2 linked regions of the Homo sapiens genome follow. The protein of the gene in region 1 purifies or fractionates together with the protein of each later gene. This does not show direct contact. Each region holds a gene or a part of one and is shown in the gene's direction. Other genes may lie near its edges. The genes, in order: SPATA6L and GOLGA3.

What was found.
Region 2: the proteins of SPATA6L (region 1) and GOLGA3 purify together in Homo sapiens (affinity purification with mass spectrometry; 2 studies listed by BioGRID and IntAct, with this or other methods). This does not show direct contact.

What each region holds. Positions count from the first base shown.
Region 1 is NC_000009.12:4,624,914-4,628,731, reverse strand, and holds part of SPATA6L (spermatogenesis associated 6-like protein), read left to right. Parts: intron 1-875; exon of another isoform or gene 876-979; intron 980-1,672; exon of another isoform or gene 1,673-2,246; coding exon of another isoform or gene 2,247-2,306; intron 2,307-3,165; coding exon 3,166-3,405; intron 3,406-3,818.
Region 2 is NC_000012.12:132,818,703-132,822,520, reverse strand, and holds part of GOLGA3 (golgin subfamily A member 3), read left to right. Parts: intron 1-209; 5' UTR 210-392; coding exon 393-525; intron 526-3,818. UniProt on the Homo sapiens protein: Golgi auto-antigen; probably involved in maintaining Golgi structure.

The sequences.
Region 1 (3,818 bases):
TTTAGGCTGGGCATGGTGGCACTTTGGGAGGCCGAGGCAGGTGGATCACCTGAGGTCAGGAGTTAGAGAAAAGCCTGGGCAACATGGTGAAACCCCACCTCTACCAAAAATACAAAAAGTAGCTGGGCATGGTGGCGTGCGCCTGTAGTCCCAGCTACGGGGGAGGCTGAGGCATGCAAATCGCCTGAGCCTGGGAGGTCAAGGCTGCAGTGAGCCAAGATGGCTCCACTGCACTCCAGCCTGGGTGACAAGAGTGAGACTCCATCTCAGAAAAAAATAATGATAAATAAATAAATAATAAACATAAAATAAAAATTTAGAAATTTTAATTTTTTATGGGTACGTAGTACCTGTATATATTTATGGGGTACATGAGATATTTTGATATAGGCATACAGTATGTAATAATCACATCAAGGTAAATGGTGTATCCATCACCTAAAACATTTATCTTTTGAGTTACAAACAATCCAATTATATTCTTTTAGTTATTTTAAAATTTACAGTTAAATTATTATCGACTATAGTCACCCTGTTGTTCTATCAAATACTAGATCTTATTCATTCTTTGTATTTTTTTTTTGTGCCCTTTAACCATCCCCACTCCCCCTCAGCTCTCATGACCCTTCCCAGCCTCTGGTAACCATCATTCTACTCTCTGTCTCCATGAGTTCAATTGTTTTAATCTTTAGCTCCCACAAATAAGTGAGAATATATAAAGTTTGTCTTTCTGTGCCTGGCTTATTTCACTTGATATAATGGCCTCAACTTCCATCCACGTTGTTGCAAGACATAAAAAATAATGGCTGAATAGCACTCCATTATGTGTATGTAATATAATTTCTTTATCCATTCATCTGTTGATGGACACTTAGGTTGATTCCAAATCTTGGCTATTGTGAATAGTGCTGCAGTAAACATGGGGCCACCTTTCTTTTGCTGAGGCTGATGCTCGGATTGTATTCATGGTCCGTCTTTGGTAAGCGTGAAGCGTCTTAGGGCATCCATGTGTACTACCTCAATTTTACTTGCTTCTTCAGTCCTAGTGTCTGCCTCCCTCACCCCAATTTCTTTCTGTTTTGCTTTTACCTTATTGCATATAATGTTGTTGCCACTTAAAATCCTTTCTAGAACAAGATGGAGAAGGAATAAAGGTAGTTTGTGAAGCTTCTCCAAATACTTTGGGACAGGGTAGAGTAAAACCTGTAAGTGAAACAAAATGCTTATCCCAGATCTCATGTAGGGTCCTAGAAAAGACCTTGAAAATGTGGGCTGTATGTTACAGAATACTTAATGAGAAAGAAGGGCCAATAATCTGTGCAAATCTATCAAAACTCTTAGCTAAATAACTCATATAATGGGAGACCAATGATTAATTTTAAGGAAGGCATTATCTGCTTTTTAGTTTTGCCTTATTTATCCTCTCTTCTCTCCAATTTATTTGTGATGTGTTCATAGCAATTTTTCAGTGTTTCTTTCTCTTCCATTCTACCATCTTAATGCTGTTTTAACTTCCTAGGTCCTTCTTTCAGTGTTAACTTTTTAAACAAATAGTTTTATTGTTTTTTTTCTTGAACTCCTGGCCTCAAGAGATCCTCTGCTTCAGCCTCCCTACGTGTTGGGATTACAGGCATGAGCCACCACACTGTCTGTTTTTTTTTCCCTTAAAACAAAAGTATCACTTTATGTTAGAAAATTAGAAAACAAAGATAAATAAGCAAAAAGGACCCAAAACTTAAAAAAAACTGTCTCATTCTTGCCATTTAGAGATCAGCATTAATTTTTTTAGTATATTCTGTACACACATCACACTTTTAAAAAAGATTGAGATCACGCTGCATTGCATATTATTTTGTACCCTTCTTTTTTTTACTTAATTTATGATAAACATTTTCTCATGTCCTCAGGTACTCTTGTGCCAGACAATTTTTCATGGCTTCATAGTATTCCATTGTATGGAAGTACTGTAATCTGTCTGGCCATTCATTTTCCTTTTGTTGAGCACTTAACTGATATATCAGCCAGGGTCCAGTCAGGAAACCACACCAAACTTGTGACTGTAACAGAAAGATTTAATTTTTAAAAATGGCTAAACAGGGGTTGAAAGAAAGACTGAAAGATAAAAGGGGAACACTGAAATGACAGAGTAACTGCAGGAAGCAGCTTCCACCCCTAGGGCTGGGGAAACAAAGGGAAGATGTTGGTTCAGCAAGAACACAGAAGCTTAAAGAAGAAACTGAACAGAAATGGGACCCAGACCTCTGGAGAAGGGCTGCTTTCCTGGATGCTTCTTCAGGAATTCGAAGGTGGGACTTGGATGAGCTGGAACTCAGATCTCAAAGGAGGGGCACTGCTCACTGCTGGTGCCACAGGAGCTTGGAGGAAGGTTCCTGTGGGTCTAGACTCAAATCTGAACAGGGGGCTCTGGTCAGCTGCCGCTGATATGTCTGGAGGAGTGCAATGGGGCTAGTCCTGGCATAATAGGGGAAAGGCTATAATCTGGAGCCATTTGCAGCTGTTAAGGCGAAGAATGGTTGCAGGAATGATGCTAACAGGAATAGAATGCAAAACTGGAAGTAGCCAGTCACTGTGTCTCCTCCAGCCTTGCACTTTCTCTAGCACCTTCCAGTGGCAGAGCCTACAGAGACCAGGTGGAAAAGCAAAAAAGGGAGTTTGTAGAGTCCCTGGACCAGTATTATATAGCTGAGGTGGATTTGCAACTGAGCGCAATTGCTTACTCACCAATACAGCTGGTTTCTAACTTTTAAACTATCATAAGCATTTTTGTAGCTATACATATAGCCATAGTTATTTCCTTATAATACATTCCTGGAAGTGAAATTGCTAGACCCCTCTATGTGTCAAATTCTCTATTATCTATCTATTGGAGGTGTCTGACACTTTCTAACTTCCCCCTATTATAAATAAATCTCACTGTTAATTAGTTGAATACATTATACTAGCAAGTTATAAATACTACTGATGTTAAACTGAACAGGAAAAAAATTAGAGAAATGTCCTTCTTAAGTTTATGTTTTATAAATCTGAGGTGTGTTATCTTTGACCTTAATTTTTAAAAATTCAATTAAATACAGTTATATTCTGATTGAATTTTCTTCTTTTCTTTCTTTATTTTAAAAAATATTCTTTTTTTGTTTATTTCAGGAAGAAAGACATGAGTCACGGAGGCCTTTATCTACATCACATGAACCAATATTTCCCTTAAATACTATAAAGATGAAACTAAAGGAGAATAATCTCAACAGACTGCCCAAAGGCATGCAAGCCCGGGCGCCCTCTCAATATTCTACCAGGCATTTCTTCCAGGACCAGCCAGCTCAGTTGAACCTTGGAAATAATTTCAAAATCTCTGGAGGAAGCAAGCCTCCATTTGTTGTTAGACACGTGAGCCTAAAATTATTTTTTAGAGCATTTTGCAATAGTGAGGATATGGATGAGGGTGGAAGAAAGGAAGGTTGAGTTATAACAACAAATGAATAATATTCAATAAAAAGGTACTTCAAATTGAATAATAATTGTGATTAAATTATGTTCATTTCCTAGATCGTTGTCAGGAAACCCCTAGAAAGGTACCTTATACAGGGGACTTGCTCAGTAAATGTCAGCCATCCCTATTTTTAATTTTTGAAAATTATTAACAGAGTATAATGCCTACACATGATAACTTGCCATTATCTTGAAGAGTCAATGAACTGACAGAGGTTGCAAATGCATAATGAAGGTTGGCACACACTCTATATCAATCCAAAACTAAAGCTTCATCAGTTTTAAAGAAAACTACATGAGTTTTATTAATG
Region 2 (3,818 bases), on another chromosome or scaffold:
GCTCCTTCAGGAAAGGGCCCAGTGTGGCTGGGTCAGCATCTTAGCCTCAAAACCTAGGATGTTGTGGGTGCTCCAGGATTATTTGCTGAATGAAAAAGTTTGTATTTGTTTCTTGTACGTATGCAAATTGGGAACCAAATGCTAATTTTGTAATTGATACTTGAAATCTGACAAGTTTCATAATACATTTTGTCTCTCTCTCCTGTCAGGTATCATGATATTAGCTGGTTTGACATCAAGTCATTTGTGAGTCATCAGATCTTCTCCTGAAAATGGGAGACACAGTAGGGCCCCTCCCAGGAGCTCTTGGCTGTTGCTGATGGCAGAAGCCAAGCTTGTCCAAGGTTCACTTGTAGCCCCTCAGCGTCAGCTCAGCTGGTGTCGTCCTGACCATGGACGGCGCGTCGGCCGAGCAAGATGGCCTCCAGGAGGACAGATCCCACAGTGGCCCCTCGTCTCTCCCCGAGGCCCCACTGAAGCCCCCGGGCCCACTGGTGCCACCTGACCAGCAGGACAAAGTCCAGTGTAAGTCGTGAGGTTCCTCTGTGTGCTGGTCACAGGAGGACCTGGTGTTGAGGGAGGACGTGGTGTTGAGGGAGGATGTGGCGTTGAGACCACTGTGAGCTTTTCACTTAATTCAAAGTTGTTTTTTTTTTTTTTTTTTTTTGAGACGGAGTCTCGCTCTTTCGCCCAGGCTGGACTGCAGTGGCGTGATCTCGGCTCGCTGCAAGCTCCGCCTCCCGGGTTCATGCCATTCTCTTGCCCCAGCCTCCTGAGTAGCTGGGATTACAGGCGCCCGCCACCGCGCCCGGCTAATTTTTTGTATTTTTAGTAGAGACGGGGTTTCACCGTGTTAGCCAAGATGGTCTCGATCTCCTGACTTCGTGATCCGCCCGCCTCAGCCTCAGCCTCAAAGTGCTGGGATTACAGGTGTGAGCCACTGTGCCCGGCCCAAAGTATGTTTTAGTAACTGAATGATGCCACCTTTAGATCAGGCACATTCCTGCTAAACAGAACTCCATTAAACGTGTGGGGCAGCAGCAGTGTTTCCCTGAAGGGATCTATGGGTCTTTATCATGTTCCCTGCCTAAAATTCTACCTTTTTTTTTTTTCGACGTGGAGTTTTGCTCTGGGTGCCCGGGCTGGAGTGCAATGGCGAGATCTCGTTTCACTGCAACCTCCACTTCCCGGGTTCAAGCAATTCTTCTGCCTCAGCCTCCCGAGTAGCTGGGATTACAGGCATGCGCTACCACGCCCAGCTATTTTTTGTATTTTTAGTAGAGATGAGGTTTCTCCATGTTGGTCAGGCTGGCCACGAACTCCCAACCTCAGGTGATCCGCCCACCTTGGCATCCCAAAGTGCTGAGATTACAGGCGTGAGCCACTGCGCCCAGCCATTTTTTTTTTTTTTTTTTTTTTTTGAGACGGTGTCCTGTTCTGTCGCCCAGGCTGGAGTGCAGTGGCACCATCTCAGCTCACTGCAACCTCTGCCTCCTGGGTTCAAGCGATTCTCCTGCTTCAGCCTCCCGAGTAGCTGGGACTACAGGCACCTGCCACCACACCCAGCTATTTTTTGTATTTTTAGTAGAGACGGGGTTTCACCATGTTGGCCAGGCTGGTCTCGAACTCCTGATCTCAAATGATCCACCCACCTCAGCCCCAAAAAGTGCTGGGATTACAGGAGTGAGCCACTGTGCCTGGCCGAATTCTGCCTTTTTGATTGGTCAGTTGCTGAATTTGTAATAGCTAGAATTCAGAAGTCGTCCCGTAGAGATCTAAGGATTACGGAGCACAGTGTTATGTTAGCCCCCTGGGTTATTCACGTGTCAGAGGGAAAGGGTGACTTAGTTATTCACTCAGTTCTCATGCCTCTTCCTGGCCAGGAGGTTCAGTGCTTTAAAACTGTAGACTACAGATGTGCTAATTTACTAGCAGAAGTCACAGTCTAATTCCTGTAAAATGATACTCAGGCGCTTAGGATGGCTTTGCTGGTCCTTGCTACATAAGCATCAGGTGAGGCAGATAACAACTTAGAGGCCCAAGATCAAGAGTTCTGAGACCCGCGGCCGTGGAACCTGCTCTTAGATCTGCTGCTCAGGAGCAATGTGCCCTCGAGCAAGACGCTGGGTTAATCTCAGCCTCCGCCCCTTTTTCTATTTTAAACATTTTATTACTGTTTTTAGAGTCAGGGTGTTGCTCCATTGAGCAGGCTGAAGTGCAGTGGTGTAATCATAGCTCACGGCAGCCATGAACTCCTGGGCTTAAGTGATCCTCCTGCCTTGGTCTCTGGGGTAGCGGTGACTATCGATGCGTGTCAGCACGCCTAGCTGATTTTTTTTTTTTTGAGACGGAGTTTTGCTGTTGTTGTCCAGGCTGTAGTGCAATGGTGCGATCTCGGCTCATGGCAACCTCCGCCTCCCGGGTTCAAGCGATCTTCTGCCTCAGCCTCCTGAGTAGCTGGGATTACAGGCATGTGCCACCACGCCCAGCTAATTTTGTATTTTTAGTAGAGATGGAGTTTCCATGTTGATCAGGCTGGTTTTGAACTCCCAATCTCTGGTGATCCCCCCACCTTGGCCTCCCAAAGTGCTGGGATTGCAGGCGTGAGCCACCGCGCCCTGTTGCCTGGCTCATTTTAAAAACTTTTTGTATAAACAGTCTTGCTGTTGCCCGGGCTGGTCTTGAATTCCTGGCCTTGAGTTATCCTTCCACCTCGGCCTCCCAAAGTGCTGGGATTACAGGTGTGAGCCACTGCGCCCGGCCTAACCCAGTAACTTTTATCTGAAATGCAAGGTTCCCCCTCTCCCAGCAGTGGAGCTCACGGGTCCTTTGCATGAAAGGCGTCTCAGTGCGTTGGTCGGGTGCCCGTGGTCTGGCTTCCTGTCTGGCACCCCTGCTTTTATTCTGGTTTTTCTTTCGGGAGGCATGACAGTAAGTATCTGCTGTTAGTTTGAACTCACATTTGCAAGTGAAAGAAACCTTTTCTTTTTTTGAGACGGAGTCTCGCTCTGTTGCCCAGACTGGAGTGCAGTGGCACGACCTCAGCTTACTGCAAGCTCCACTTCGAGGGTTCACGCCATTCTTCTGCCTCAGCCTCCCAAGTAGCTGGGACTATAGGCGCCCGCCACCACGCCCAGCTAAGTCTTTGTATTTTTAGTAGAGACGGGGTTTCGCCGTGTTAGCCAGGATAGTCTCGATCTCCTGACCTCGTGATCCACCTGCCTCAGCTTCCCAAAGTGCTGGGATTACAGGCGTGAGCCACCGCGCCCGGCTAAGAAACTCATTTTTAATTTGCTTGAGCAAAAAGCAAATTTGCTGTCCTGCATGCACGTGGGATCCGAGGAATGCTGACCCCTGTGAGACACGGAGGTGTTGCCGGGCCTCCAGAGCCACCGGAACCAGGACCAGAACCCCCTGAGGACCCTCCCTCCCCCCTCACATGTCTTGGTTCTTTGACTGTGAACTGGCCCACCCACCAGTCAGCAGTTAGGGGGCAGGGAAAAGACTGAAAATCACTTCATTGAAAGAAATCTTTCTTTGTTCCATTTGATGAGGAAATATGTTTTAGTTTGTGTTGTGGGTAATTTGTATATAATCATTTTAGTGGGTGAACTGAGGTAACACGTGGGTATAGAATTGTCACTGGTCCAACCCAGGCCTTTACCCAGCAGGCTGTCATCAAGCAGAAGCGCGGTTCTGGGCTGTCTCTGCTTCACGGGTGGTGTGATGACATCATCCACCTCTTCGCCTTAGGGTCCTCGCCTTGGAGGATAAGCTGAGGCTTTGAAATGACTCCAAAATCAGCCTTTGTAAATGTG